4 linked regions of the Homo sapiens genome follow. The protein of the gene in region 2 purifies or fractionates together with the protein of the main gene of each other region. This does not show direct contact. Each region holds a gene or a part of one and is shown on either strand. Other genes may lie near its edges. The genes, in order: ITPR3, TAFA4, LRP11 and SEZ6L2.

The links.
Region 1: the proteins of TAFA4 (region 2) and ITPR3 purify together in Homo sapiens (affinity purification with mass spectrometry; 2 studies listed by BioGRID and IntAct, with this or other methods). This does not show direct contact.
Region 3: the proteins of TAFA4 (region 2) and LRP11 purify together in Homo sapiens (affinity purification with mass spectrometry; 2 studies listed by BioGRID and IntAct, with this or other methods). This does not show direct contact.
Region 4: the proteins of TAFA4 (region 2) and SEZ6L2 purify together in Homo sapiens (affinity purification with mass spectrometry; 2 studies listed by BioGRID and IntAct, with this or other methods). This does not show direct contact.

Annotation. Positions count from the first base shown.
Region 1 is NC_000006.12:33,680,322-33,687,321, reverse strand, and holds part of ITPR3 (inositol 1,4,5-trisphosphate-gated calcium channel ITPR3), read right to left. Parts: intron 6,994-7,000; coding exon 6,868-6,993; intron 6,768-6,867; coding exon 6,642-6,767; intron 4,799-6,641; coding exon 4,678-4,798; intron 4,116-4,677; coding exon 3,925-4,115; intron 3,303-3,924; coding exon 3,154-3,302; intron 2,966-3,153; coding exon 2,857-2,965; intron 2,725-2,856; coding exon 2,634-2,724; intron 2,549-2,633; coding exon 2,379-2,548; intron 1,964-2,378; coding exon 1,789-1,963; intron 1,680-1,788; coding exon 1,495-1,679; intron 1,270-1,494; coding exon 1,069-1,269; intron 914-1,068; coding exon 803-913; intron 314-802; coding exon 218-313; intron 97-217; coding exon 1-96.
Region 2 is NC_000003.12:68,929,531-68,936,806, reverse strand, and holds the start of TAFA4 (chemokine-like protein TAFA-4 precursor), read left to right. Parts: upstream 1-4,259; 5' UTR 4,260-4,567; intron 4,568-7,276. UniProt on the Homo sapiens protein: Modulates injury-induced and chemical pain hypersensitivity. Ligand of FPR1, can chemoattract macrophages, promote phagocytosis and increase ROS release.
Region 3 is NC_000006.12:149,861,344-149,869,341, forward strand, and holds the start of LRP11 (low-density lipoprotein receptor-related protein 11 isoform 1 precursor), read right to left. Parts: upstream 3,017-7,998; 5' UTR 2,678-3,016; coding exon 2,065-2,677; intron 1-2,064.
Region 4 is NC_000016.10:29,882,532-29,889,559, forward strand, and holds part of SEZ6L2 (seizure 6-like protein 2 isoform 5 precursor), read right to left. Parts: intron 6,195-7,028; coding exon 6,009-6,194; intron 5,287-6,008; coding exon 5,118-5,286; intron 3,219-5,117; coding exon 3,055-3,218; intron 1-3,054. UniProt on the Homo sapiens protein: May contribute to specialized endoplasmic reticulum functions in neurons.

The sequences.
Region 1 (7,000 bases), on a different chromosome or scaffold from region 2:
CGCCAGGATATAGATGTTATGGCCCACTTCACGTGGGCTCACCTCCGAGTTCTCACGCTCTTCCTCCTGCAGGTAGGCCTTCTTGATGACGTCCACCTGGAGGGGCAGTGCCTGTTCCAATGCTCTCTTCCTAGGGCGGTAGGGCCAGCCGGGCCCTCATCCCCATCCCAACACACTCCACCTGGTTCCGCCCGCCTGCCCACCTGCCCAGCCTCACCAGCTCCTGGGGCCGCAGGCTGATGAGGATTCGCTCAGCATTTTCACTGTCATGCCGGCTCTCCATCAGAGCCAGGAGCAGCTTGGAGGCATTGTCCTGGGTGGAGGGGCAGAGGGAGGCAGGCCACAGTCTCAGGACACCATGCCCCTGACAACTTCTCCCTCATTCCTCTCCATAACAGCTCTCCCATCCAACAAAAGGTCAGGTGCCATGACCTTCCCATCCTCCCTCCCCCCGGCTTAATGAGAAGCATCCTGCACAGCCAGCCCACCCATAGGCTTGCCTTCACCCCCGCTGTGGCAAACACTCAGCTACCCAGACAGCAGACACACACATAGCAAGTCCTCAGCTAAACCAGAATATATTTGCATCCAGAGTGAGTGTATGTTCCAGCATGCTTAAACATGCGTATATTACACACACACCCTGCACACACCACACACTTGTGCATCCAGATGATGCCCCATCACACAATGCTAACACCCACATTACACACCACTATGTACACTTGACACACAAGTCACACATACATGCATGCACATCACATGCACACCCAGCACTCACACACCTGCCACTGGGCCCCACCTTGAGCTGCAGCACCAGATCCATGCGGTACTTGCACAGGGGGCTGATGTCATTGAGGATCAGTGCGGTGATGATGTCTATGCCATTGGACTCGTGAGTCACAATGCAAGTCTGGCAGGAGGCAGTGGGGGACACAGGGCCCAGGCCCTCTCAGAATAGTGGCAGCTCCAGAGACCTCAGCCTCTCTCCCTGCCCCAGCTGGCTCCATCTACCCACATGTCCACACTGCCACCCTGGCTGCCACTTATGCCACCAGGACAGCTCACCTGGTTCTCATGGCAGGGGCCCTGGCAGTACTCAGTGAGGGTCTCCAAGGTCTGGATGACGAGGCCCACGTTGTCCTCATTGATGTAGAGCCCCAGCAGCCCCAGGCCGCCCGTGGTGCTGCCGCACATGATGTCCAGGAACTGCAGCGTCTCGCATACCAAGTTGTAGTTGGTTTTGTTGTTCTGACAGCGCAGGAAGTTCTGCGGGGCACAGAAGGGTTGGGCACAGCACAGCTACAGCACGGAGAGGGAGGCTGGCCTGGGAAGCACGATCTTGTGTGCTGCAGGGGTAGGGGAACCACCAGCCACAAAGCAGCAGTGCCCAGGGCAGGGCACACCTGCCATAGAGGGACACCAGCCACACTGCCTAGTCTGCATGCCGGCTGGCCAGCGGGGGAAGGGGCAGGTGTGTGGCGAGGCACTCACCTGCAGGTCCCGGTTGTGGTTCTCACACAGCAGCTGCAGAAAGCGCAGGATGGGCTGCATGATGAGCACGGATGTGCCCATCTCACTGCTCTGCACACGTTCGCTCACCTCGTGCCCCCGGCGCAGGCTGGGGCCCAGCGAGTAGCGGGATGAGGAGCCAGGTATCGAGAAGGAGGCCACGCGGCCTGTGGGCGAGACCTGGTGAGGCTGGAGCTGCCCACCCCCTTGGCCACCCCCCTGCACATCTTATCCTGGGATCCCCGTCACGCCGTGCCTCTGCCTCAGACCCCTGACCTTTGGTGGTGGGGTCGACTGGCTCGCGGTCCTCATGTGGCTGGCTGCCCAGGTCATTCATGTTGACTGCCACCGTGGACTTGGTCTCCTGCTGGGCCCGCTTCATGCGGTCGTGCAGCACCTTGAAGAAGCGCTCTGACTTCTTGTCACTCATCATCAGGTTGTGGAAGGATTTCTGGAGGTGGACAGTGGCCAGGGAACAACCTCAGCACTGGGCCCTGCTCCTACTCAGGGCGTGGGGCAGGCACACCACACTGCTGGGGCCGCTGGGGCTGCAGGGGCCTGGCTGCAGGCCTGGGTGCTGGTGGCTAGCATCCATGGCCACCCATGGGCGGCTCCATGCCCCATATCTGCTCCTGTGTCACGTGGTCCTTTCATCACCCCCGCATACCCCTCTGCCCCAGCCAGGCCTGAGCCCGTCTCCTCACCACCCTGCCCCCATCATGCCCACTCTTCTCACCTCTCAGCCACTGCTCAGGCCTCTCCTCTTTCACACCCTCCTCGGCCTTCAGTGCCCAACTCAAGGCCCACCTCCTCCAAAAAGGGAGGGAGGCAAAGGAGGGCATGTCCAGGCCCCAGGCCCCCCACACCTGGATCTCTGTGTTGCCACCATCCAGCAGGTGGATGGCCAGGCCGATGCTCTCCTGGAAGATCTTCTCGTTCTTGGTGCTGGTGATGAGGTCGCATACCAACTTGGTGGCCCCCTCCTTGTCCAGCCGGCACTGGGTGGCTGCGATTGCCGACCAGTCTGGGTCCAGGCCTGGAGGCGGGACTCGGTTGAGGGAGAGCTGGTGTGACAGGAGAGTGGAAGGGAGGGCCCGGGGGCAGGGGAAGGTGATACTGACCAGTGCCTATGGGGTCGGGAAGGTCCCCCCGCGAGGTGGACTTCCGGTTCTGGAGGTAGTTTTGCAGCAGCATCTTGCGCAGCTGGTTGCCCTGGGGGAGGATGGGAGTGAGGCCCCATTGTGGGTACAGCCCACCACTGACCACTGGCCTGACGGGCTTGACCCTGAGCCCCTGGGTACTCCTGACTGGCCCACCCAGCACTTGCCCCACCAGGGCACTCACCCGGTCCCCGTACTTGGTCTTCTTGAGCAGCATCTGCTGCAGGGTCCGCAGCACCTTGATGCACAGCTTCTCCTCCGACTCCATGAGGTCCTTGGTGTGCTGGATCAGCCTGAGCCGGCCAAGGAGGCAGCTCAGGGCAGCCCCACACTGCCTCCCTCCAGCTACTTCCCCACCCCATCCCAGGCAGGAACACCCCCAGGCCCTCTGACCCAGTGAGCCTGTCTAGTCCCCACCGGGCCCTTCTCTGTCCCCTGCCGCTGCACCCCTGCTGCCCCCATGCCCCAGTGTCTCGCTCACTTGGACAGGAAGCCCCCACTCTCGCAGCGCTGGTAGGCCTCACTGCCCTCCAGGAAGAGCAGCTCAGGCCAGTGCAGGACATCCACCAGCACGGACAGCTCAGCCTGTACCAGGGGCTTCAGCCGCTCCTCCAGGGCTGTGATGATGTCCTGGGGTGGGCAGGGCAGAGTCATTGCCAGGCCCAAGAAATGACCCGGGTGTGACTGCCATTCCTCCGACCCAAACGCCAAACAGCCCCACAGATTGCCCTGCCTCTGTCTGAGGGGCCCACACCCACAGAGACACCCTGAACACAGCGTGATGTCTGTCTGCTCAGAGCCCTGGCTGGGAGCTGCCAAGCCTGGCTTCTCTCCCAGCTCTGTGTGACCTTGGGCAAACCCCTTAGCCTCTCTGAGCCTCAGTCTCCTGCCACGTGGGGAAAATAATCCACCACACCCCCTCTACAGGCCAACGAGACAGCGCACAGAAATGTGCTGCATAGACAGGAGGGCGCTGCAGGAGTGAGGGGTGGTCCCGACCCCCTCATGAGCTCCAACCCCACTAGCAGGCCTCTGGGTTCTCCAGGCTTCCTCTGGAAGGAGGTTCCCCAGTCCCTTGCTGCTGGGTCGGCCCTTAGCAGCCCCAGAGTGTAGAGAAGCCAACCAGCCCCTTCCTGGAAGTGTGGGCAGGACAGGAAGAAACACTCCCCGAGAACTTGCCCCTCCAAAGTAGGGGAGCTGCTGACTCAACCAAGCAGCTCCCGAGGCAGATGCCAGGCAGCCCCACACCCACCTGCAGCTTCTCAATGATGTTCTTGTAGTCCCACTGGTTGGCGGTGGGGGTGACGCGGGGGAAGGCCCGCGTGGTTGCCTTGTAGCTGGAGGCGTTCCGCTGGGCGGCAGCTGCACAGCTGGCTCCACTGCTGAGCATCGAGCTGATGTGGGCATCCAGGTCCATGGGCAGCAAGATGGCCCGGCCCTTGGCTGGGTGGGAAGGGAGGGAGTGCTGGAGTGCTGGTGCGGGGGCAGTTCAGCCAGCCAGAGGCCAGGCTCAGGGCTGCCACACCAGGAGACAGAGTGAACTAGACCAAGGGTCTGGGAGACAGAGACCCCCCCCACCCCGGCCTATGCTTGAGGGACTGAGAGGCTTTCTTCCCCTTGTTGGGTAAAAGGAGTTTCTGCCTCTTTGATTCCCCCCGGCTCTACCCTGACTTCCCCTTCCTCTCTCTCACCTGTCCTCTCTTCTTCCCCAACTGTCCCTAACAATCCACAGGCCTGCTCCTGCCTGAGCCCATCTGCAAATACCCATAAAAAACTAGCTGGAGAATGTCGGCGAGCATCCTTCTCTGGGGAACTGACCCAGAGGAGAAAACAGCTTCTCTCAATTGCCAGGATGAGGCAGACGCCAAGAAGAACTTACTGACAACCACCTGGGAGCAGGAGATGGGCGAGCTTAGGGATAAAGTGTTTATTAGGAGGGCAGGCGTCCCCACTGTGAGCGGCAGGAGGAGTGGTTTGGGGCTGGCCAGTGCCCCGGCACACTCACCCACCATGGCGAGGGTCCGGATGCAGGCCTCCACGGAGCCCTTGTGCTGCTGCTGTAGCCACGGACACTCGAGGAGGCGTGTGGTAGACTGCAGCAGCTGCACCACAATCGTCTGGTGTGTCTGCAAGAAGTCACAGAGCCCGCTGCTGCAGCCCAGGCCCCCACCCTGGGCAACCCCAGGTCCAGGAACCAGGGCCCAATCAGAATGGGCATGGGTGGAGAGACGGAGCCTTCACTAGCCACCATGTGCCTCTGTGCCAGTTGGAAAAAGGTACTTGTATTCCCTTCAGCAGTGCACGACCTGCCCAACTGTACACGGCAGCCCTGTAACTCACCAAGGCCGTGGGCTCATAGCCATGTTGCTGACCCTTTTAAAAAATGTTTAAAAAAATTAATGTCATAAAAAGGTGATGGATTTACATGGTTGAAAAACCAAAAGGTTATTTAAAAGATAACACTTTGAGGCTGGGCGCAGTGGCTCACACGTGTAATGTCAGCACTTTGGGAGGCCAAGGTGGGTGGATGACTTGCGGTCAGGAGTTCGAGACCAGCCTGGCCAACATGGTGAAACCCTGTCTCTACTAAAAATACAAAAATTAGCCGGGCGTGGTGGCGGGTGCCTATAATCCCAGCTACTCAGGAGGCTGAGGCTGGAGAATTGCTTGAACCTGGGAGGCAGGGGTTGCAAGTGAGCCAAGGTTGTGCTACTGCACTCTAGCCTGGGGCACCAAGTGAGACTCCGTCTCAAAAAAAAAAAACATAACACTTTGAGAAGTCTCTCCCCCATCACCCTCATTGCCCTGGAGCTGATCAAGGATGGGGAAAGCTGATATCAATTACCAGAGTTCCATCGTCCCAATGCGATCCCAGGGCCCAAACAATGTGTGTCAAAATACACCACCCTTCCTGAGAAGGCAGGACTCAGCATTTTTCCCCCCAGACTTAGAAGCACGATCCCACCCCACCCCAGCTCCTATGCCCCTAGGTAGCCCCTTTTGTGGGTTTCTTTTGTATCCTTCCAGTGTTTCTTTGATTTCGGTCATGTAGCAGGGCCCTTCCTTAAGGGAACCTGGCTCGCTTTCATTCAGGGGGGCTCTGGGCTGAGCACTGGCTCGAGTCTGGGAATCTGGGGATTGACCAAGGAGCCATGAATCTTTCGAGATTCAAATCAGGCTTCTGTACACTGGCCTGGAGCCCTTCTGCTTAGGCCTTCAGAAGGCTGCCTGCCTATTTCAGTTCTAAGATCACTATGATCAACTAGCCAGCACGAAGGATCCTGCCAGGGAGACTGTCGTGATCCCTGCTTTGGCTGTACCATCCCATGGATGGCACGTCTGCCTTATCTTTGGTGAATAAGTGCTGCCACTCCGGGATCCGCCCACCCACTGGAGTTAGGAGTTCCTGCTGGATGGTACCATTCCCACCGTCATTCTGGCCCACAGAAACTGAGATAGCGAATGCTTGTTGTTTTAACTGCTAGGTTTGGGGATAATTTGTTAACACGGTATAGATAACTAATATACTTAGGCCGGGCGCGGTGGTTCACACCTGTAATCCCAGCACTTTGGGAAGCCGAGGTGGGCGGATCATGAGGTCAGGAGATTGAGACCATCCTGGCTAACACGGTGAAACCCTGTCTCTACTAAAAATGCAAAAATTAGCTGGGCGTGGTGGCGGGCACCTGTAGTCCCAGCTACTCGGGAGGCTGAGGCAGGAGAATGGCGTGAACCCAGGAGGCAGAGCTTGCAGTAAGCAGAGATCGCGCCACTGCACTCCAGCCTGGGCGACAGAGTGAAACTCCATCTCAAAAAAAAAAAAAAAAAAGATAACCAATACACTTATGTATCCTTTTGTTACTTCTTTCTGTACTATAAGCAAATATAAATATGTATTCTTATTTCCCCCCTTCCCTTCACAAAAGCTAGGCAAGTCGGCCCTGGGGTGGTGGGAGAGGAGAAGCTCACCTGCAGGGAAGTGCTGTTCTCAGAGAATGGGGAGCTGAAGAAGGCGTTGATGGTGTCCAGCACAACGCTCAGCACGTACTTCTCCAAGGTGGGGTCAGCCACGCGCTTCTCACGCTTGCTGCAGACCTGAGGCAGGAGAGAGGGATGGCTGGGGGCTCCTCACATGGGGCCCCTCCACTCCCACACCTCCTGGGGGGCTTCACCCACACCCCTCACAGGGACAGACCCGGGCCATGTCCAGGGTGAAGTTCTCAAAGAGCGTCCAGATGTGGTTGCTGGTGTAGATCTCCTTCATCTCCACCTCCGTGTCCACGTAGCAGTGGTTCACGAAGTTCACATAGGCCATTTTCACCTGGGCA
Region 2 (7,276 bases):
TAGAAAGCTAGAAAGCTGGGGTAAATAAAAAAAAGTTAGAAAACAGTGCTTTGAAAATTTCAAAGACAAATGTAAAGGAATAGACAGATGCTTTAAAAACATTTAAATTTATTTTTATATATTTAGGAGGCACAAGGGCAGGTTTCTTACGTGGACATGTTGCATGGTGGTGAAGTCTGGGCTTATCGTGTACCCATCACTTGAATAGTGAACACTGTACCCAACGGGGAATTTTTTAGCCCTCACCCCGCTCCCACCCTCCCACATTTTGTAGTCTTCAATGCCTATTATTCTACATAGTATGTCCATGTGTACCCAGACAGAGGCTTTTTGCTTTTTCTCTGTTCTTTCTTCACTTGTTTCACTGTTCAACCACTCGAACACAGAGCTGACAGTAAGCGAGACTGTTTCAAGGCATAAGTCGGCCATTTAAAGGTGGTTTCAACCACGGGCATATTAGCCTTTTTGGAGTGTCAGTTTTCTCATCTGTAACATGGAGATTATAATAAGAGAATTTACCTTGTATTTACCTTTACTTATATTTACATGGATTATAAAGATGATAATCCGTGTGAAGTACATAGTATAGTGAGCCACACACAAGCCTCCAATTAAGTCAGCTATCATTCTTATTAGTCTCCTCAGAAAAATTACTAAGTGCAAAATTGTGTTGCAAATTTTTAAAACTGAAGCTTCGCTAGAAACAAGAGGATTTTTTAAACAGGCCCAGGAGAGTCAGAACGTTCCTTTCAGGCATAGTCAGTCATCAGCACGTATTGATTAAGCACCAGGACATGCCAGTAGTGTTCTGGATGTTATACAAATGAGGAAAGTAAACACAATGTCCAAGTCACGTGGTGTCACTACCTACAAATACAGAGGCACATCCAGGGGTGTTTTGTGAATGTGTGGTGTGTGCAAAATACCGTTGGCGTGACCTTCACAGGTTCTTACATAAGAAAATAAATCATTTGACCCCATTTTTAGGAAACAGATGTTGATTGATTTTACACAACCTCAAAGGATGCAAAATGGGTCGCAAAGAGAGAGAGAAAGAATGTTACCGAATGAATGACAGGAATGTTTTCTTGTAAGAGGAACTACTGTCTCTGCCTGGAACAATTTTTGCCCAGATATTCGCTTGGATGGCTTTTTGTCAGTTAGGTCTTGACTCAAACGTCACTACCTCATAGGGACCTTCTCTAGGCAGCCAATCTAAATTAAACCCATCCTCATATCCTTCTAATGCTCTAGCCTTCTTTTATTTTCTTTTAGCACTTATTGTGCTCTGAAATGACCTTATTCATATATTTGTTGAATTATTTACTGTCCAACCTTCCCCACAAGAATACACGCAACTCACATGTGCCTTGTTTGTCACCATATCCTAGAGCCTGGCTCACAGCAGGCGCTTGATAAATAGCTGAATGAGGAAACAATTGGATAATTGGGGCTTAGTGGCTATTTCTTTTTTTTTTTTTTAATATAGCTTGCCTTTTTTGTGGTGATTTGGTTAGTAAATCTCAATTTATCAGATCATTCTGGCTTCTTGCTACTGCACAAGAGACATCAGGTCATTGGAAACTTACAGATGAGTCCCTTAACTGTACTATCTTACTTTAGAAACAAACACACTTTTATGCTTGTATGAATTTGCTAGGGCTGCCATACAAATACCACAAACTAGGTGGCTTAAACAACAGAAATTTCTTGTCTTACAGTTCTGGAGGCTAGAAGTCCAAGGTTAAGGTGTTAGCAGGGTTGGTTCCTTCTGAGGGCTGCAAAGAATTTGTTACACGCCTCTCTTCTCCCTAGGTGGTTTGCTGGCAATCTTTGGCATTCCTTAGCTTGTGGAAGTATCACTCCATCTCTGTCCTGATTTCTACATGGTGTTCTTCCTGTGTGCATGTCTGTCTCCAAATTTCCCCATTTTATAAGGACACAGTCATACTGGATTCGGGCTCATTCTAAAGACCTCATTTAATTTAATTCCATAAAGACCCTATCTCCAAATAATGTCACATTCTGTGGTACTGGGGGTTATGACTTAAACATATAAATTTTAGGGAGACAAATTTGAACCTCTAACAGTACTGAACATCCAGGATGGAAGAACATGGTATTAGGTTGAGCCAAACACAGTTGCTTACGTTTTGGTTTTCCTCACCAGGACAAGAAACCCCCAGTGCAGGAAAATTGGAGACATGGAAAACAGGGCTTAAGTAAACACGCAGATCTTTGCCAGAACCATGTTTGTCACACAGTGTGGAAGCAACGAATATCTGGTGAACAAATGAATGTGGACTTGTTCTTCTAAATGACTTGCTCCCTCACTTCTTCCAAGTCTTGGTTCAGATATTACCTTCTCAGTGGGAACTAGCCTAACTACTGTTCTTAAAACCACCATCTCCCCAGTACTCACCTTCTTTTCTGTTACTTTCTTTCTCTCTATAACACTGACCACTTTCTATCAAACTCTGTAATTCACTTATTTGTCATGTTAATTGCCCATCTCTCCCTACTAGAAGATAAGTTCCATGAACTCAGGAACTTTTCACTGTTGTGTTTCCTTCTCTATGTACCAGCACTTGTTACAGCGCCTGACACAGAGTAGGCCCTCAGTTTTGCTGAGTGAGTGAATGAATGAATGAATGCTGTTGAGAAAGAGCTCTGGAATCTCCTGGCATGCTATTTCAGGTTTTGCTTGGATCTCCCCTTTGGCCGTCACAGAACTTCAATGCTAGTCTTTAAAGGAAATCTCAAAGATCAAGCGCCTATCTCCAAAGCTTGAATTCTCTCTTAAACTGGTGACATCTTGATAACAAATTGCCTTTGAATGTAGAACCCCCATTTTAATAATAAGAGAGTAAGAGATTGAAACTGTTTAACAAGTAAAATGTGCTATGGTATGTGTGGTACGGGGAACAGAAGCAGAAGGCCTGCCATACGTTAGTTCAAGGGGTAGAGTCAGAGAAGGGTGAACATACTTTGGAGTGCAGCAGGGGCAGGATGGCACATAATTGTATGTCAATGCAGAGTAAAAGGACCAGAAGATGATAAGCCAAGCCAATGACAGTGAGCAGCATAGTGGTACAGAGCAACGTTTTCTAACTTTATGCATGCACCAGCCACTTGGGCATCTTGTTAAAATGAAGATTCTACTTCTGGGGTGGGGCCTGAAAGTCTGCAGTTCTAAAGTGTTCTCAAGGGACCGCTCTACGACGCCATGCTTTGCATACTAAAGAGCATGGATTTACTAGTTACCTGTGTAATCTTCAGTAAACGATTTAACTTCTCTGTGCTTCAGTTATCTCATCTATAAAATAGAGATCAGATGAACTAATCCCAGTAAAATGAATACCATTAAGTGACACTGATTATCAGTTACTTCACTTGCGGAAGAGTGGAGGGCATGACTAGGAATGGGGTGGGAGGAGGGAGTCAAAGAAGTCTTAGCTGAATTTTTTTTTTTTTTTTTTTTTTTTTTGAGACGAAGTCTCGCTCTGTCGACCAGGCTGGAGTGCAGTGGTGCGATCTCGGCTCACTGCAAGCTCCGCCTCCCCGGTTCACGCCATTCTCCTGCCTCAGCCTCCCGAGTAGCTGGGACTACAAGCACCCGCCACCACGCCTGGCTAATTTTTGTATTTTTAGTAGAGACGGGGTTTCACCGTGTTAGTCAGGATGGTCTCGATCTCCCGACCTCATGATCCACCCGCCTCAGCCTCCCAAAGTGCTGGGATTACAGGCGTGAGCAACCGAGCCCGGCCCCAGCTGTATTTTATACATTAAAAAAGAAAAGTATTTAGGTATTCATACGTGGGCCGAGTTTTCTCCTCTCTCATACAAGCACATTACACGCGAAGCCAGATTAGTTCATGAATGTGCTACTGCACGGGGTGGCTAAGAAATCCTGCTTGCAAACCGCTTTGGGTCCTGCGTGGAGAATGGTTTCGAGTGAGAGCCGAACCCTAAATCCGTCTTCCTTATGTGGAGCTCAACGCGACTCTCAGGTATTCAGGAAGAATACCTTTTGCTCAGCACCTGCGGAGTGGTGGCCACAGCGAGGCGCTCGGGAGAGGCGCCTGGAGGCCGGCAGTGGGGGCGCGCCGCCTGAGCAGGGGTGCGGGGCGGGGAGAAGGCCGGCCCACGTGGACCGCGGGGCCAGGCAGGGACAGGAGCAGCCGGGCGGCCCGGCCAATCAGCGCGTTCCGCGGCGGGCCCGGCCCCTCCTGGTCAGCGCGCTAGCTGGGCTCGGCTCCGCACTGCTAGCTGCGCGCCGCCCTGGACGGGGCGCACCGACTGCGCGCGCGGCTGCGGGCAAACATCGGGAGTCCTGCCTCAGCTGCCGCTTCTCCAGCAGCAGCTTCAGGCTTCTCCCGCAGGAGCTTCGGGCTTCTCCTGGTAGAGACGTGGGAACTTTTCTTCTCCTGGCGAGGCTGCAGAGGTGATGGGCCGCTCCCGGGGCTCCCGCGGGGAGGCGGCACGGTGAGCGTCCTCGGGCTCCGGTGCGGCGATCAGTACCTAGTTCCGGACGCGCCGGTCCGACTTGGATGCCGGCTCTAGTCGAGTAAGAAGGGTTGGAAGGGATAAGGAGGGGCGAGAGGATGGGGTGGGGGTGGATTTGGACCCTGTATTTAGGTGCTGTCTCGTGGGCAGCCGCTGCCTCTCGGCTGGTACCGAGTTAACTCAGCTCGGTGCAGCTCCCCTCATCCCGGCTCTCTGGGGCGCCGGGGAGAGTGCCTGTGCTGAGGTCGGCGTGCAACCCGAAGTTGGAAGGGGCACTCCGAAGTAAGGATGTGTGGCTGGAGAGAGGCAGCGGCCGCTTCCAGTTTCGGGGTTCATGTCTGACAGAATCCCCGGGGGTGCTCTGCTGATGCGGAGGAGGCCACTCGATGAATTGGTATAGGGGGTGGTGAACTCACCGTGAGCTCTTTTCTGGACAAGTCGACCTTAGCGCTTCATCCCTTTAATCTGAGCTAGGATCTTTCTAGGAGCAAGCAGGTGGGAGCCGGTCAGCGTCCCCCCGCCCCCACCCCCACCCTGAAGCTCTGGTTGCTAGGATCTTGCTTGAAGGGCGCAGCGAGCGCTCGGGAGGCGTCTTCCAGCTGGGAGCGCAAAGCTTCCCGCCCAAGTGGAGAACTGGAGCGGGTCTGGAAGTTGCGTCTCTTTCCGCGGGAGGCATCTCAGATTTGCCCACCAAGGTGGCATCTCTACATTTCTTTCGCTCTTTTTCCCACTTTGCCCTGTTAATCCGCTCCTAGAAGAGAGGGCATCCTTGACCCTACGCAAGGAGCTCGGGAGAGGATTGGAACTGGAAAGCTTGATCTCCTGCACCTGGTGAGGCTGCCCAAGCCAGACACAGTGCCGCTGGTGCGTTTTCTTCTCGAATCAGCATCATTTAACGTTTAGGGGCTCCACGGAGCCTTAGTAAAGCTGTGAATCAGCTCCTAAGCAGTATGTACATGCACGGGTTCACGGACTCGCCGAGACCTAGCCTGGTGCCCATCCCCCGTCACCGAGATTCAGGGACCCCCCTTTGGTTTAACGTCTTTATCCCTGAACTCTTTTCCCTTTTAACTTTTCAATGGTCTTCCCTCTGAGACAAGCAAGGTTGATGTGATGTGACAGGCGATCCCCGTGTGTGGGGATGGGCGCCTTCGAAGCTTTGGTCTGTTTCTGTCTCTAATATCCTTGGCATAAAGCTTGTCCACCATAACTCGTAGCTGCCACCTGCAGACTCGGTCACCCAAACTTGTGCACACTGATGGCCTAGCTTCCTAATCACACGCATCTTCGTTTGGCCCCCTCTAGAACACTCGCTGAGGAGGGAAGAGGTGGGGGCAGTTTGTGTCAGAGCCCAGTTCAGGAAGGCCTTGGATTTTTTTAAAGGCTAAAATAATTTAGGAACAGCCATTTTGCAATATAATTAGTGTTACCACTCAGTCACTGAGAACAAATGTATGACTTGAAGAATTCTTCAATAGCTCGCGTGGGTTTTATAGTGAGAAGAATTTCTGCTAAGTTTATAGTCATATCAGTGTGAAAGCCCAACACTTCCTCTAGATGGGAAATACAGGCCTTAATAAGGTAGTGTGAGAGCAGTTTTCAGAATCATTATGACGAATGATGACTTGTGTCCTCCCAAAATGACCGAGTGAGTTGGCATGGCTCATTTGTGGAAGAAGCTTTCTTCATATGCACGGACATTTCTTAATCAATATTCTCATAGCAGAAAGCCGTATTTCAAGGTTCCCTTCCTAAGTTCTTCTGTCTCATTGTTCTGCTTTGCGTGACTTTGCTTTCATCCCTCAGTACCATCTTAACTGCCCTTTGACACTTTAAAATTTATTATAAGGCTTCAAGTCACAATTTGACTTGGCCACTTTTCCCTGCTAAAGATAAGTAAGTTGTCCTGTCCAGAAAAGCAGTGGCTGCCAATTTCTCTATCTTTGAATGACTTTAATTGTATTACTTGTTCCCTTAGCACATACAAAAACCCCTACAAATATCTCTGCTTGATTATTGGATATTTTTCATTGAAGGCAACCATTTTTATATTTCTAGTACTAGAATATCCTAGGTCACTTGAATTTCAATATTCATTTTCTGATCTTTTTAGACATGTGTATTGTTTGATGACCTAGTTCCATTTAGTAATTAAAAAAGAAAAAGAAGAAACTCCTTTGCTCCCCGCTACCACCTCCTTTTCAGTGGTACCTAGCCTTTTCCTAATAGCTGCTTTTTTTCTGCACCACTCATTTATTGTTACACTTAATATAATACTTTGCTATGTAAATGGCATGTTGATGCATGTGATATTAAAACTGCATTCACTGGGGATTAACCATTGGATATGACATCATCAGCAGCCAATCCTTGATCTGATTTGAACATGCATTGACAAAAGTCATATTATCATATTGAGCAAGTGATTCTATATTGCCTGTGATGAATAAGGGAAAGAAGGAAGTCTTTTTGGCACTTACTAACTCTCCGTTAGCTGCCCAGTTTGAGAGTTTTGGGTATTTCTATACTAAGAGGCTTAGCTTAATAATAACATTCTCAGATTGCAATTTTATAGATCTCTTTAGAATTTGCATAAGTAGATTTTCCCCCTTGTGCTTTCTTCCTCTTTGCGAGTTTTTCACCCTGTGTTCTGGCTCTGTTTCTTTACAAATATGTAAAGACATCACAGTAAATGGACTAATCTTTTGCTTTTATTTTTTGTCCTAGAGATAGCCACGTAGGTGATGGGCTAATTTGAGTACATGAGTTC
Region 3 (7,998 bases), on a different chromosome or scaffold from region 2:
AAGTCTGAGCACAGCAGTGTTCTCCCAGAAATGAGGACCAGCACCGCGCTCGCCTATTTTCATCCCAAACATCTACAAAACAATTCCTAGACAAACTCCCCTGGGGAAAGGAAGGGCAACGAAGCAAGCAAGAGGAAAAACAACCCAGAAACTTCTCATAGTAACCTGAAGTTTTTGTTTCTGTTTCTGAGGCAGTGTCTCCCTCTGTTGCCCAGGCTGGAGTGCAGTGGCGCAATCTGTACTCACTGCGACCTCCACCACCACAGTTCAAGCGATTCTCCTGCCTCAGCCGCCCGAGGAGCTGGGATCATAGACAGGCGCCACCATGCCAGGATAATTTTTGTGTTTATTTCTTTTTAGCAAAGACGGGTTTTGTCATGTTGGCCAGGCTGGTCTCTAACTCTTGGCCTCAAGTGATTCACCCGCCTTGGCCTCCCAAAGTCCTGGGGTTAGTTATGAGCCACCGTGCCTGGCGTCTCCAAGTAATCTAAACTTTAAAATTTTTGTTCTATGGCATATTCTTTCCTTGTTTATTTTCCTTTTCAAAGGTTTCCTCTGGGTTTATAGGAAAGCTCACTTTGGCAATGTCAGTTTCTTCCAGGTAAGTAGTGAGAACACAGAGAAAAGACTTTGTTTCTTTGCTGCTGGGATATTTTGGTCTGTGTTTGGGCAGAGAGGATGTGTGTGCAACAGCCGTGGTGGGCCTCAGAGATGCTGATGGGGGGTCCAAGTGAAAGTGCTGCCTGCCTCCACTTCAGAAGGAAAGCTATGGAGTCCTTCCCAGTGTTTGCCTCAAGGCCAAGCAGTCGCAGGGTGACCCTTTGATATCTGCTCCCCTGACAAGGATTCTGAGCCTCATCTAAGGTAGAGGTGGGGAGGGAGGCAGGATGTGATGGACACAGATTTCCAGACTCTTTCAATGGATCCACAGGTTTTGGAGAATCCACACTTCCAAAGGGGCTGAGCTCCGCCCCCATCTTGCTGATATCATTCGTGCTATTATAAATCAAACAGCAACAGGGCATGATTAAACACACGGAGCCTGACCACACGTGGGCACAATCAAGGTCTCTTATTCCCTCCGTGACATTCATGTCCAACCACTACCATTTTTGTGCCTCCTGTATGTGTCCTGATTCTCTCATTCAGAGCATCTACAAAAAGTCAAACCGTCGAATCAGCATCATTTTTAGTCCTTAAGAAACACGCTTTAAAGTTTCCTATTTTCTTTTCCTTTTTTTTTTTTTTTTTTTAAGATGGAGTTTCGCTCTTGTTGCCCAGGCTGGAGTGCAATGGCGCGATCTCGGCTCACTGCAACCTCCGCCTCCTAGGTTCAAGCGATTCTCCTGCCTCAGCCTCCCGAATAGCTGGGATTACAGGCGCATGCCACCAGCTCTGGCTAATTTTTGTATTTTTAGTAGAGATGGGGTTTCATCACATTGGTCAGGCAGGTCTCAAACTCCTGACCTCAGGTGATCCGCCCTCCTCGGCCTCCCAAAGTGCTGGGATTACAGGCATAAGCCACCACGCCCGGCCTTAAAGTTTCTTATTTTCAACGAAAATCAAGTCCCCTCTTTTCACTTTTTATAAAAGGGACCAGAAGTTTTCCTCCCATTTTTGTATGATGAAAGCCACCGCAGGCAAAGTCAGGAGAGCCACGTCAAGAAAAAGGAGTGGGTGTTACGAGAAGCCCGGCATCTAATTAGATTTTGCTCTTGCAATTACTTAACACAAACCATGCCTTATACAACCCATGAGACTAAAACAAACTTTTTTCTCTCAGCATTTCTCCCCTTTTAAGTCATATTTCCACGAATCCTCTCAGATCAGCCTTTCTCTTCAAGCCTAGAAAAATTCCAGTAGCACGTCACCGCGCCCGCCCGCCCGCTTCTGCCAAACTACTGGGCTTCCTCTTCCCTAAGACAGAGAAACCCATGCCAGAAACTCTTCTGGGTGCCCGCGGCTAAAATAACTTGGCACGAGTGTGTTTCGCTTCCAACTTGGCGAGGGCGCTGCGGGTCTCGAGCGCTCTGGCCAAGGCCGGCCCCTCAGTCGCGCGCTTACCCTGCCGGGGCGAGGCGCGCGCGGTGGCCAGGGCGGCGCCGTCCGGCGCGCGGCTGAGGCTGTAGCTGCTGTAGCCGCTGTGCAGCGCGAACTTGCAGACGTTGCGGCCGCGCGCCGTGCAGTTGAAGAGGTAGCAGCCGAGCACGGCTGCCGGGGGCGCGGGGCGCCGGGGCAGCTCCACCACGGCCACGGAGCAGCGCGGCTCGGAGCAGCAGGCCGCCACGCATTGCCGCCAGCCCCGCACGGCCGCCGGCGCCCGCAGGAAGCTGGCACCCGCCGCCAGGGAGTCCTTGGTGCGGATGATGGCGTCAGGCATTGCGCTGTAGCCGCCGCTGCCCGGGCCCGGGCAGTCCTCCTGGGGGCCGCCGCCCGCGCGCAGCTCCAGCTCCAGCTCCTCCTGAGGCCGCTCCTGCTGCAGTTGCCGGCGGAACTCCTCCAGCAGCTGCTCCACGCCCGACAGCTGCGCGTGCAGTTCGGACAGCGGCGCCGCGGGCGGCAAGGCCGCACGGCCGCTTGGCAGCCACAGGCAGAGCAGTAGCAGCCCGCGCAGCGCCCCGTGACGCGGCGGTAGCCGGCGCTGCGAGCCCGCGCTCTCCTGGGCGACGGAGGCCATGGCGACGAGAGCCAAGGGCAGCGAGCCGAGGCGGGGCTGAGCGCGGGAGGAAGGCGGGGACGCGGGCGAGCGCGGGCCCTGGGCCCCTCCTGCGCGGCCGCGGCTGGCTCTAGGCCCCGGCCTCACAGCGCGGCGCCCCCGAACCCGGCTGCTCCCCCGAGGTCGCGGGCGCCGGCGGGAACCGCAGTAGCGGGAGACATAGCCGGCCCAGCCGGGCACCGCTCCTTGCCCTCGCCGGAGACTGCCCAGCGCCCTGCGCCTCTCCGCCCCGGCCTGCGGCGCGCTGGGTGGCGACGAGTCGGCCTCGGCGTTGATCAGCACCAGGTGTGTGCGAACAGTGGCCGCGGCGGGGTGGAGCCTTGGTGAGCCCCGCCCCCCCGCGCGGCCCCGCCCCCGCGCGTCTCGCGCCGGCTCCTCCAGGGCTGGGAGAGCAGGCCCCGGGGAGGGCAGCCTCAGAACAACTTTGCTCCCGCGCCGCTGCCCAGCTAGGGCAGGGTTCATGTCTGGGCCCAGCAGGCTTTAGCAACCAACCACACCTGCCCAGGGCGCCTGCCCACAGGGGCTTGGCATTCGGGGGAATGGGGGCAGTGGGAAGGGAGGGCCTGTCTTCAAATCCTCGTGACCCCCGGGACTACTCCAGAGAGGGGGCACGCGCACCTAGGACCACCGTAGCGCGTCATCAGTCCTTCACCTCCAGCGTCCCTGACTTTCCGCATCATGTTCCCAAGATGTGCTTGGGTAGTACAAAGTGGGGCGGGGTTGGGGTGGCGGAGTCAGGGCCGGGAGGGGTGGGGATGGGAAGTACTGAAAGATGTTCAGTCTGTTTAAAAACACAAAAATCAAGCCTGGTGAGGTGGTACTCGCCTGTAAGTCCTGAGGCTGAGTTGGGAGGATGGCTTGGACCCAGGAGTTCGAGACTGCAATGAGCTGTGATCACACCACTGTACTCCAGCCTGGGGGACAGAACAAGACCCTGTCTTTAAAAATAAAAACAAAACCCATAAATAGCAGTCGTCACATGCACTCAGATTTCCACAAATATAACAAAAAATCTGAACACAGCCAACATGGGGACCTGGGAGTAATACAGCCTGTGACAGAGAGGCCTCTAGCGGTTATATCACGTAAAATCTCGGGAGTTGTGCTTTAAATGACATAAGGAATAAGAAAATGTCCAACCCAGTGGGGGCTTCACCTTGGCGTTCTAGACTTCTGTGAGCAGCATCTGCATCTTGTTTGTTTCTGAATCAGTTTCTGTTGATTCATTTTTCTCCTGATTGTGGATCGCATTTTCTTGCTTTTTAGCCTGTCCGGAAATTTTTGCCTGGATGCGCACATTGTAAATAGAACACTGTTAAGTGTCTGTATTTTTTAGGATTGAAAGAATAAATAATTGGTGGGAAAATATCAGTCTCTGCTATGTGTTTATTATCTCCAGAGTTGACATTTAGGAACCCATTGCTTGCAGATCCAGATCAGAGTAGGAGGTAAAATTAAAAGGTAGCAATAGAAAAGAAAGAAAAAAGCTCAATGTTACTTGCCATTCCATCAAAGGGAGAAATTATAAAGTTTTTGCAGGGGTATATTTGAGTGATTTTTGAGGCTAAAAGAAATGGCCTCTTAGCTCTAAAGGCTGTGTCTGGACTGTACCACTTCGGCCTGGAGATTCTTCCTCATATGGCATACTCATCCCACACAACTGCAGTCATTGTAAGATGACCTTGAAGCAACATAATGCTTTTTATTTTTTATTTTTATTTTTTGCCATAGACCTTGGAGAGCTTGAGCAGGATTGTTATGAGGAGAAACTTTCACTAGTGATGAAAATGCTGACTGAGGGTATCATCAAACCCTCCAAGGACTAGTTGTTATATAAGTTATTAATATTAAAAATAACATGATAATATATAATATTAACTAAGAATTGTACATGATTTCAAAGTTTGCCAAACACTTTCACATACATGATTTTATGTGCCTTCACAGAGACTTTGACCACCTCACTCCTGCCTTTGGGACCGTGAAAGAGAAGTCAGTATAGAGTGAGCCCTAGCTCACATGTTCCGTGGTAGGGAAGTGGACAGGGGAGAGGACAGCATTTCTCAGGGGCATTCATTTCTAAATCCCTCCAGCACCATCAAAGATTTTCCTGCATCTGCAACTTTACAATAGGTCTTTTTGGGAGAAGTGGAAATTATTTAATGTTGTGTTTACCGTGAGCAGTGGTTATTTCTGGGCTGTGAGTTGCAAGTACTGAAGGGGAAATACTGACTTTTATAATTTATAAGACTTTGTTGAATTTTTTTTTTGCAATGAGCTTGTTGTAAATGATTTTCTATTTTTTAAAAATAAGTGTTGACATCTGCTTCAGCCAGGAGGGAGCAACAAGGACTGGACTTACTCTGTGACCTGAAATGAAAAATCTGTGAAAAAAATGTATGGAACAATGGTTTTCAGACATTGGGCAACAGGCAATGCAGGGCCCAAGAGAAGGGAGACAAAGGAAGTGAACATGCTGCTTGCTCCAGCTTACTGCCTGGAGAGGGTTTCCAAGCCGCAATGCAGACAGGCGAACCAAAAGAGACTCTGAGTTGGAAAATAGAGCTGAGAATTCAGGGAGGCCAGGGTGGCTAGAGTACCAGAGAGGAGAGAGTGCAACGGAAGGAGGGAGCTCTGGAGATCTGTGCAGGGTTCCTCTGAGTCTTCAGCAGAAGTTCGACCAGGTACATGCATGTGAGGAAACTTCCCAAGACAGAGAGGCAACCACTAGAAAAAAGCTGGCAGAAAAACTTCTGAGCTTGCATTGGCCAGGCAATAGTTCGTTCCCAACAGCCAGAGTGGAGAAACCTTGTGACAAGAGGCATGAGTTTGAGTAGGAAGGGAAGGGATTACAGAGAAGCACATGAAAACTTTTGCAGGTGATAGGTGTGTTCATTACCTTGATTGTGGTGATGGTTTCACTGGTGAATACATTGATCAAAGTTCATCAAATTGTGTATTTTAAGTGGGTATAGTCAATTATATGTTAATAAGGCTATTTTTTAAAAACGAAGTTTCATTGCACTGTGCATTGTGATTTATCTTCTTTTTCTAGTTCTCTTTTCAGTTTTTTTCAGAAATAAACTATCTTTGTTTTAAAAGCCTAAACATCAAAACCTTATCAATGGATAGAAGAATTTTTATGTGAGGATGAAAATGTCAGGAAGATGTGTTTCTGTTTTATAAGATAGATCATTAAGAGTAAGAGTGGATCAAATTGAGATTGGACTTCGTAGGTCAGTTTGTTGAATGTTGGAATGAGATAACCTGTGTCTTAGCTGGGCTGCTGTAACAGAATACCACAGACTGGGAGGCTTCTAAACAACAGAAATTTATTCCTCACAATTCTAGTGGCTGAGAAGTTCAAGATCATGGTGCTGGCAGACGCTGATATCTGGTGAGGGCCCACTTCCTGGTTCATAGACAGCAGTCTTCTCACTGAGTCCTCACCTTGTGGGAGGAGTTAGGGAGCTCTCTGGGATTTTTTTCTTTTCTTTTCTTTTCTTTTTTGAGACAAAGTCTCGCTCTGTTGCCCAGGCTGGAGTTCAGAGGCACAATCTCTGCTTACTGCAACCTCTGCCTCCTGGGTTCAAACGATTCTTCTGCCTCAGCCTCCTGAGTGGCTGGGATTACAGGCGCACACCACCACGCCTGGCTAATTTTTGTATTTTTAGTAGAGACTGGGTTTCACCATGTTGGTCAGGCTGGTCTCGAACTCATGACCTTATGATCTGGCTGCCTCAGCCTCCCAAAGTGCTATGATTTCAGGCATGAGGCACCGTGCCTGGCCTGGGATCTTTTTTATAAGAACACTAATCCCATTCATGAGGGCTCCACCTTCATGCCCTAATCATCTTCCAAATTCTCCACTGCAAACATCATCACATTAGGTTTCAACATAGGAATTTTGGGGGGTTACAAACATCCAATCTACAGCAACACCCTAGTGACATCGTTTTTTGTTGCCCTCCCCTCCCCTCTACTGCCCATCTAAGTACTTTTACAGGCATCGAATAAGTTAAGTCAGTGCATGTGAAGTGCTTAGAAGGGCATCTGACACATTATAGAAGTTCAATAAATGCTAGTTGTTGTTGTTATTACAACAGAAATGAAGGACCTTTCCTAAGATTAGAAGTCATGAAACCACTTGAAGCCTGAATCTCCTCTACAACATCCCAGCTGAGTGGCTGTTGCACTAAGATTCTTCCTTCTCCATACCCCTTTCATGGAATCTGCTCTGCTCACGTCCCTGGAAGGGGCAGCCCCAACCCCCAGGTGGCCACACCCCCTGTTCACTAGGGATGGAATCAATAATGAATGCCTGGCCCAAGCACAGCCAATCAGATACTCTCTCCAAGGAATGTAAAAACAGAATTGAGAAACAAACTGACTCAGCAAATCAACTCAACAAACTGACTCAACAAATTGAGTCAGGGAGGGAAGTGTAGCTGGGAAGCCAGGTGAGCTCCAGGGGACATGGAAGGGGATGATAGCAGAGAGAAGCTGTTCAGCAGAGGGGGACAAATGGAACCGTGAAAAGAGGAAATAGAGAACAGTGCATACATAGCCTTGAGAGAGGGAGGGAGTGAAGACAGGAGTTGCCTGACACTTTCTGGTCTCAAATCTCTCCCCTGAGCACCTACTTGGCCTTCTACCTGGAATTCCTCTCATGGAGTTCTTGCCTTGCAGCTCAGTGATCTAGGTTCATCCTAGTTAAATCTCTGTGGATTGCAAACAACAGAAACTCATTTTAGATTGGTTTAAAGAAAAAATAGCTACCGTGTTTACACACATGCACTCACAGGCAGGGAGGAAATGCAGCCAGGCCTTGGGAGGGCCTGGACCAGACATGGCAGAACCCTCAGCAGTCAAGCAGCTGGTCTCCCAGTTGCTGCTTCTCTCTTCTGGGACCAAGTAGTCTGAGATCTCCACTTCTCTCTGCACATCTGATTCATGCTTCTCTCAGAGTCTGGAGTTTTCTGCCCTCCATGCACAGAGCCTGAGTCTATCTCACCTCACCTGCAGCAATGAACAGAAACTCAGAACAGTGACCATCAGTACCAAGAGAGAGACTCTGATGAGTCTAGCTTGGTCCTGTGTCCACCCTAAACTGAGGTTAGTGTGCAGAGACCATGAGGCACAAACAGGGCTACAAACATGGCCTTCCCTCTCCTCATTGAGGATGGAAAGAGAGGCCGTTCTTAGAGGAAGGACGTGGTAGTAACTGGGGAAAATCCTGAGAAGTTGTCTTCTGCGTTGACTCAGGCAATGCCCCATGTCTG
Region 4 (7,028 bases), on a different chromosome or scaffold from region 2:
GCGCCATTGCACTCCAGCCTGGGTGACAAGAGCGAAACTCCATCTCAAAAAAAAAAAAAAAAGGAAAAAAATGAGACAGGGCCTTGCTCTGTCACCTAGGCTGGAGCGTGCAATGGTGGGATCACAACTCACAGCAGCCTTGACCTCCTGAGCTCAAGCGATCCTCCTGCCTCAGCCTCCCAAGCAGCTGGGACCACAAGTGTGCACCACCACACCTGGCTAATTTTTTGTTTTGTTTTGTTTTGTAGAGACAAAGGTCTTGCTATGTTGCCCAGGCTGGTCTCCAACTCCCAGGCTCAAGTGATCCTCCCATCTTAACCTCCCAAAGTGCTGGGATTACAGGCGTTAGCCATTGTGCCTGGCCACAGTGAAGAATCTTAAACTCATAGAATAGCAGTGGCCTACAACTCTGGAGTCAGGACTCACAACTTGCTATTTTCGGTAAAAGATCTGTGCTGTTTGCACTTTAACACTCCCAGAATCTATCCCGCAATTCATTTTTGCAGATCCACTGTTCTATTTCACTGTTACTTAACCTGCAAGGTATCATGTCCAAATCCTACCCATCCATCACAGCCGAGTGCCAATTCCATTTCTCCCATGATTCATATCAAACACTAGACCCTCCTATCTCTAAGCATTTCATCTTTTTGGTCTCTCTCTTGCTACTGTTTATACAACTCCTCTGTTTCAGCCACAATGAAATTCTGTTTCCCAGACATACCAGGCATTTCCCTACTTGCTGTTTCTCAAAGTTCCTCTCTTTCCTTTTCTTTTCTTTTCTTCTTTTTTTTTGACAGGGTCTTGCTCTGTTGCCCAGGCTGGAGCACAGTGGTGCAATCATAGCTCACTGCAACCTCTGGGGTTCAAGTGGGGTTCAAGTGATCCTCCCACCTCAACCTTCCATGTAGCTGGGACTAGAGGTGTGTGCCACCACACCTGGATAATTATTACTTTTTTTTAATTTGTAGACACAGGATCTCACTATGTTGCTCAGACTGGTTCTCAAACTCCTGGCCTCAAACAATCATCCCACCTTGGCCTCCCAAAGTACTGGGATTAGAGACACGAGTCACCACAACTGGCCTCAATCTTCCTCTTTTAAAATATCCTCTGTTGGCTGGGCAGGGTGGCTCACGCCTGTAATCCTAGCACTTTGAGAGGCCGAGGTGGGAGGATCACTTCAGCTCAGTAGTTGGAGACCAGCCTGGGCAACATAGTGAGATGCTGTCTCTACAAAAAATGTAAAAATTACCCAGGCATGGTGCCGAACGCTTGTGGTCCCAGCTACTAGGGAGGCTGAGGCAGGAGGATCACTTGAGCCCAGGAGGTTGAGGTTGCAGTGAACCATGATCGGGCCACCGCACTACGGCCTGGGCGACAAAGCAAGACCTATTTCAATAATAATAATAATAATAATAAAATACCCTCTATCCTTTAAGGCCAAGGTGAAATGCCTCTTCCTCCATGATCACTTCCTTGTTTCTACCCCTTCACATTCATTCCTCTTCTTCTGGTAACGGCATCCCAATTTTAATTTTGGGACGCAGGCCTTCCCCACTCCCAGTCCACTAGGTTAAGTTGGAGCCCACCAGGGAAGGCCACGTGAGGCAGATTAGCCAATCCCAATACTCCCTTCTCCTAGCTCAGTGATTGGCTCAGGCTAAGGCCAACCAGGATCTTAGTCAGGTCAATGAACGCCTCTCCTGGCATTTTTGCTGAGCTCTCAGGAAATATATGAGTGTTCTCTCTGATGAGGTTACTCGGTTGGTGGTATGGGCTGGAGGAGGTGGCTTACACCTGTAATCCTGGCACTTTGGGAGTCCCACATGGGCGAATCACTTGAGCCCAGGAGTTCAAGACCAGCCTGGGCAACATGGTGAAACCCCGTCTCTACTAAAAACCCAAAAATTAGCTGGGCGTGGTGATGCATGCCTGTAATCCCAGCTACTCGGGAGGCTAAGGAATGAGAATCGCTTGAACCTGGAGGAGGGGGGCTGCAGTGAGCTGAGATCGCGCCACTGCACTCCAGCCTGGGCGACAGAGAGGAACTCTGTCTCAAAATAAATAAATAAATAAAAATAAATAAAAACTAAAAACTGTCAGGCGCAGTGGCTCACGCCTGTAATCCCAACACTTTGGGAGGCGGAGGCGGGCAGATCACCTGAGTTCGGGAGTTCCAGACCAGCCTGACCAACGTGGAGAAACCCCATTTTTACTAAAAATACAAAATTAGCTGGGCATGGTGGCGCATGCCTGTAATCCCAGCTACTCGGGAGGCTGAGGCAGGAAAATCGCTTGAACCCGGGAGGCAGAGGTTGCGGTGAGCCGAGATCATGACATTGCACCCCAGCCTGGGCAACAAGAGCAAAACTCCGTCTCAAAATAAATAAAGGCCGGGCGCGGTGGCTCACTCCTGTAATCCCAGCACTTTGGGCGGCCGAGGCAGGCGGATCACAAGGTCAGGAGATCGAGTCCATCTTGGCTAACACGGTGAAACCCCGTCTCTACTAAAAATACAAAAAAATTAGTCGGGCGCGGTGGCGGGTGCCTGTAGCCCCAGCTACTCGGGAGGCTGAGGCAGGAGAATGGCGTGAACCCGGAAGGCGGAGCTTGCAGTGAGCCAAGATGGCGCCACTGCATTCCAGCCTGGGTGACAGAGCGAGACTCGTCTCAAAAAATAAATAAATAAATAAATAAAATAAAAATTAAGTTGGTGGTATGTAAGTCGGCAGCTATGTCCATCACACAGGGAAAGTGCCTAAGGATGAAGCCAGCACAGAGGAAAGAACCGAGATACTGAGATAACTGGTCTCTGGGCTATGTACCTGGATCCAGACATTCATGAAGCTTAAACAGAGAAGGCTGCCTGGGGGAAGGAGAAGGGGTCCCTAGAAGAGATCCTTGCAGTTTTGGGGCAGGGAAGCGAGTCACGTTTCAAGGAACCCAGCACGGAGATGAACAGGCATAGAGTTTGTGCTTCCGACTATGCTTGGTGTCAGGAAGAGGGGAAGGTGTGGCGGTTGGGGTCCTGTGGGGGAGTGGGTCACTTACCTTCAAATCGAAGGCTTAACAGCAGGGGATTGGCAGGTGTCTCTGACAGCAGCTCCACGTAGAGGGACTGGGCGTCACTGATGAGACCCCGCTCGGGGACATCGTCCATGTCCGAATCATAGATCACGGGGGATAGGGGGCTGCCCCCTGAGCGCACCATCAGCCTGGGATGGACAGAAACGTGACCAGGAGCTCAATCTCCCTCACAAGCTGCCTCACCCCTTGCCTGCTTTCCTAACTTATTTTTATAGCTGTTATCATCACACATAACTATATGCCACGCACTCTTCTAAGCCCTTACACATTCTATCTCATTTAATTTTCACAAGAACTCTTGAGTCAGACACTATTATTATCCTTTATTTTATAGATGAGGATATTAGGGCATAGAAAGATCAAGTAACCTGTCCAAGGTCACAGAGCAAGTAGTGGCAGGGCTGAGATACCAAGTTGCTAGGTAAAGGATGATAATGATGATGAAGATAGCAGATGCTTGACCAGGCATGGTGGCTCAGCTCACACCTGTCATCCCAGCACTTTGGGAAGCCAAGACGGGTGGATCACCTGAAGTCAAGGAGTTCAAGACCAGGCTGGCCAACATGGTAAAACCCCATGTTTACTAAAAATACAAAAATTAGCCAGGCATGGTGGTGCATGCCTATAATCCCAGCTACTCAGGAGGCTGAGGCAGGAGAATTGCTTGCATCTGGGAGGTGGAGGTTGCAGTGAGCTGAATCCGTGCCACTGCACTCCAGCCTGGGTGACAGAGCGAAAGTCTGTCTCCAAAAATAAATAAATAGATAAATAAGGCCAGGTGCAGTGGTTCATGCCTGTAATCCTAGCACTTTGGGAGGCTGAGGTGGGTGGATCACGAGGTCAGGAGATCGAGACCATCCTGGCTAACACGGTGAAACCCCAACTCTACTAAAAAAAAAAGTACAAAAAATTAGCCGGACGTGGTGGCACACGCTTGTAGTCCCAGCTACTCGGGAGGCTAAGGCAGGAGAATAGCTTGAGCCTGGGAGACAGAGGTTGTAGTGAGCCGAGATCGCACCACTGCACTCCAGCCTGGGCGACAGGGTGAGACTCCATCTTAAAAAAAAAAAAAAAAGAGGATAGCAGACACTTTTATAGTGCTTATTGTCCCAGGTGCCATTCTAAGGACTTTATATAATTTCAGCACTTATCCTCACAGAAACCTGAAGAGGGAAGTATTGTTATCTCCATTCTACAGATGAGGAAACTGAGGCACAAAGAAGTTAAGTGATTTGTCTAAGGTTTCACAGCTACACTTCCTAAGAAAGTCTTAGGACTGGCTGGGTGTGGTGGCTCACGCCTATAATTCCAGCACTTTGGGAGGCCAAGGTGGGCAGATCACCTGAGGTTGGGAGTTTGAGACCAGCCTGACCAACATGGAGAAACTCCATCTCTACTAAAAATGCAAAATTAGCTGGGCATGGTGGTGCATGCCTGTAATCCCAACTAATCAGGAGGCTGAGGCAGGAGAATCACTTGAACCCGGGAGGCAGAGGTTGCGGTAAGCCAAGACTGCGGCACTGCACTCCAGCCTGGGCAACAAGAGTGAAACTCTGTCTCAAAAAAAGAAAAAAAAAAAAAAAAAGGCTTAGGACTAAGCTGTGATGCATATCTCAACCAGGATCCACCCCAGCTGTGTCCAAGTCCCCACTTAGCCTCCCTACTTCCCTGAGGTGGGGACTTCTTTTTTTTTTTTTGAGACGGAGTCTCATTCTGTCTCCCAGGATGGAGTGCAGTGGTGCGATCTTGGCTCACTGCAAGCTCTGCCTCCCGGGTTCACGCCATTCTCCTGCCTCAGCCTCCCGAGTAGCTGGGACTACAGGTGCCCACCACCATGCCCGGCTAATTTTTTTTTTTTTTTTTTGTATTTTTAGTAGAGATGGGGTTTCACCGTGTTAGCCAGGATGGACTCGATCTCCTGACCTTGTGATCCGCCTGCTTCGGCCTCCCAAAGTACTGGGATTACAGGCATGAGCCACCATGCCCGGCCAAGGTGGGGACTTCTGACCCAAGACCCAGACCCTTACCGGTCATTGTCCTCATCCAGCGAGACCCTTTCAAAGTGCAGGTGCAGCCGGCGCCCCTCAGCTGCTTCAATGACCCAACGGCAGGTGAGGTTGGGCCCTACGGCTCCCCCAGGCTCTGGGGACACGATGCGGCCCAGGGTGGCATTGTGGATGGTGCCACCACAGGATGCTGTGGGCAGAGGAGGGGTACGTTAAGGCCAGCCTGAGGTGAACTGTCCTTCTCCTCGGGGCCTCGGCCCGTTTTCAGAACTGTTGCATTCACACATTTGGCTGGGACCCGGCCCAGGGCTGGCCTCTGTCCCATGGAGTCACTCCAGAGGATGGGACCTTCTCCAGGCATGAGCCAGGAAAGAAACCAGCCCCGGTACGGGAGAACCCCAGGATTGACACCTCCTAGGATGGAGACACCACTAAAATGAAGACTCTCCAACTGCGGATACTCTAGGATGGGGAGTTACAAGGATCCCTAAAATTCAAAGCCTCAGCTGGGAAATCTTCAGGACAGGACTTTCAGAGTGAAGACACCACGGGATGGGAATCCCAGTAAGAGGCTCTCTAGGATAGAAGCCCTCTGGACATGAACCCTAAAAATGGCTTCCTCTAGGATGAGGACGCTACCCCAGAAGGGACCTCCAGAATGGTGACTCCCAAAATAAAATCTCCAGTGGGACACCCCGAGATGGAGACCACCCAAGGATGGAGAAACCCCAAGGAGAGAGACCCTCCGCACAAAGAGCTCTGGCTGCAGACCCCAGGATGGGGACTCCTCAGGGTAAACACCCCTTCAGAATGGGTTTTCCCCAAAGGTGGACACCTGGACACCCCCGAGATAGGACCCTCCCAATGGGGTTCCCAGAACAGATGCCCCACCCACTGTGGCAGGAGACTCACCCATGCAGCTGGGGGTTTCACCGTTCCAGGATGGCCGGGTGCCATTGAGGCAGATGAGGGTCTCCTCTCCCTGCAGCTGGTAGCCCGAATCACAGTGAAAGGTGGCAGTGCCCCCAGGGTGCAGGTCCGTCACACTCACGTCCCCATGGGCCGGCCGGGGAGGGAAGCCACAGCTCAGGAGGTAGGCTGCACCAGACAGACAGCGGGTAGCAGGGCTCACTTTCCCATGCCACCCTCTCATACTGATCCCCCAGCACTTCCCCCCTCTCCTTTCAGGCCAACCTTCCAGGGGCACACACTGGCTCCATACTGGCGTACATACCGAGAAATAAGAGCTCCTCACACAGGCACCTTGCCTCGCGAACAGGAAACTCCAACACCCCTTATCTCCCCCACTCATTGTAATTCACCCTCGTTGGCCCCCATTTTATAGATGAGGTATCTGAGGTTCAAACAAGTTATTCTGGACCCCGCTACTCATTTGTTGTGTGACTTCAGGCAAATCAATGAACTACTCTGAACTTCATCCAGCTGTAATAACAGTATTTGCAGAGCTTGTTCAGCTCCCAAAGTGAGTCCACACAGAGATTTTGAGGTCAGCAGACAAAGATTATGTGACCTGGCTAGGCATGCTGGCTCACGCCTGTAATCCCAGCACTTTTGGAGGCCGAGGCAGGTGGATCACGAAGTCAGGAGTTCGAGACCAGCCTGGCCAACATGGTAAAACCCCGTCTCTAAAAAATACGAAAATTAGCCAGGCGTGGTGGTGGGTGCCTGTAATCCCAGCTACTTGGTAGGCTGAGGCAGGAGAATCACTTGAACCCAGGAGGCAGAGGTTGCAGTGAGCCGAGATCGTCCCATTGCACTCCAGCCTGGGCGACAAGAGCAAAACTCTGTCTCAAAAAAAAAAAGATTATGTGACCTGTTTTGCAGGTGTGAACACTGAGGCTCCAAGTTATTAAATGTCTCTTTTGATTTTTCTTCCCTCCACACACACAGCCTTTCTTCCACCAAGGTGCC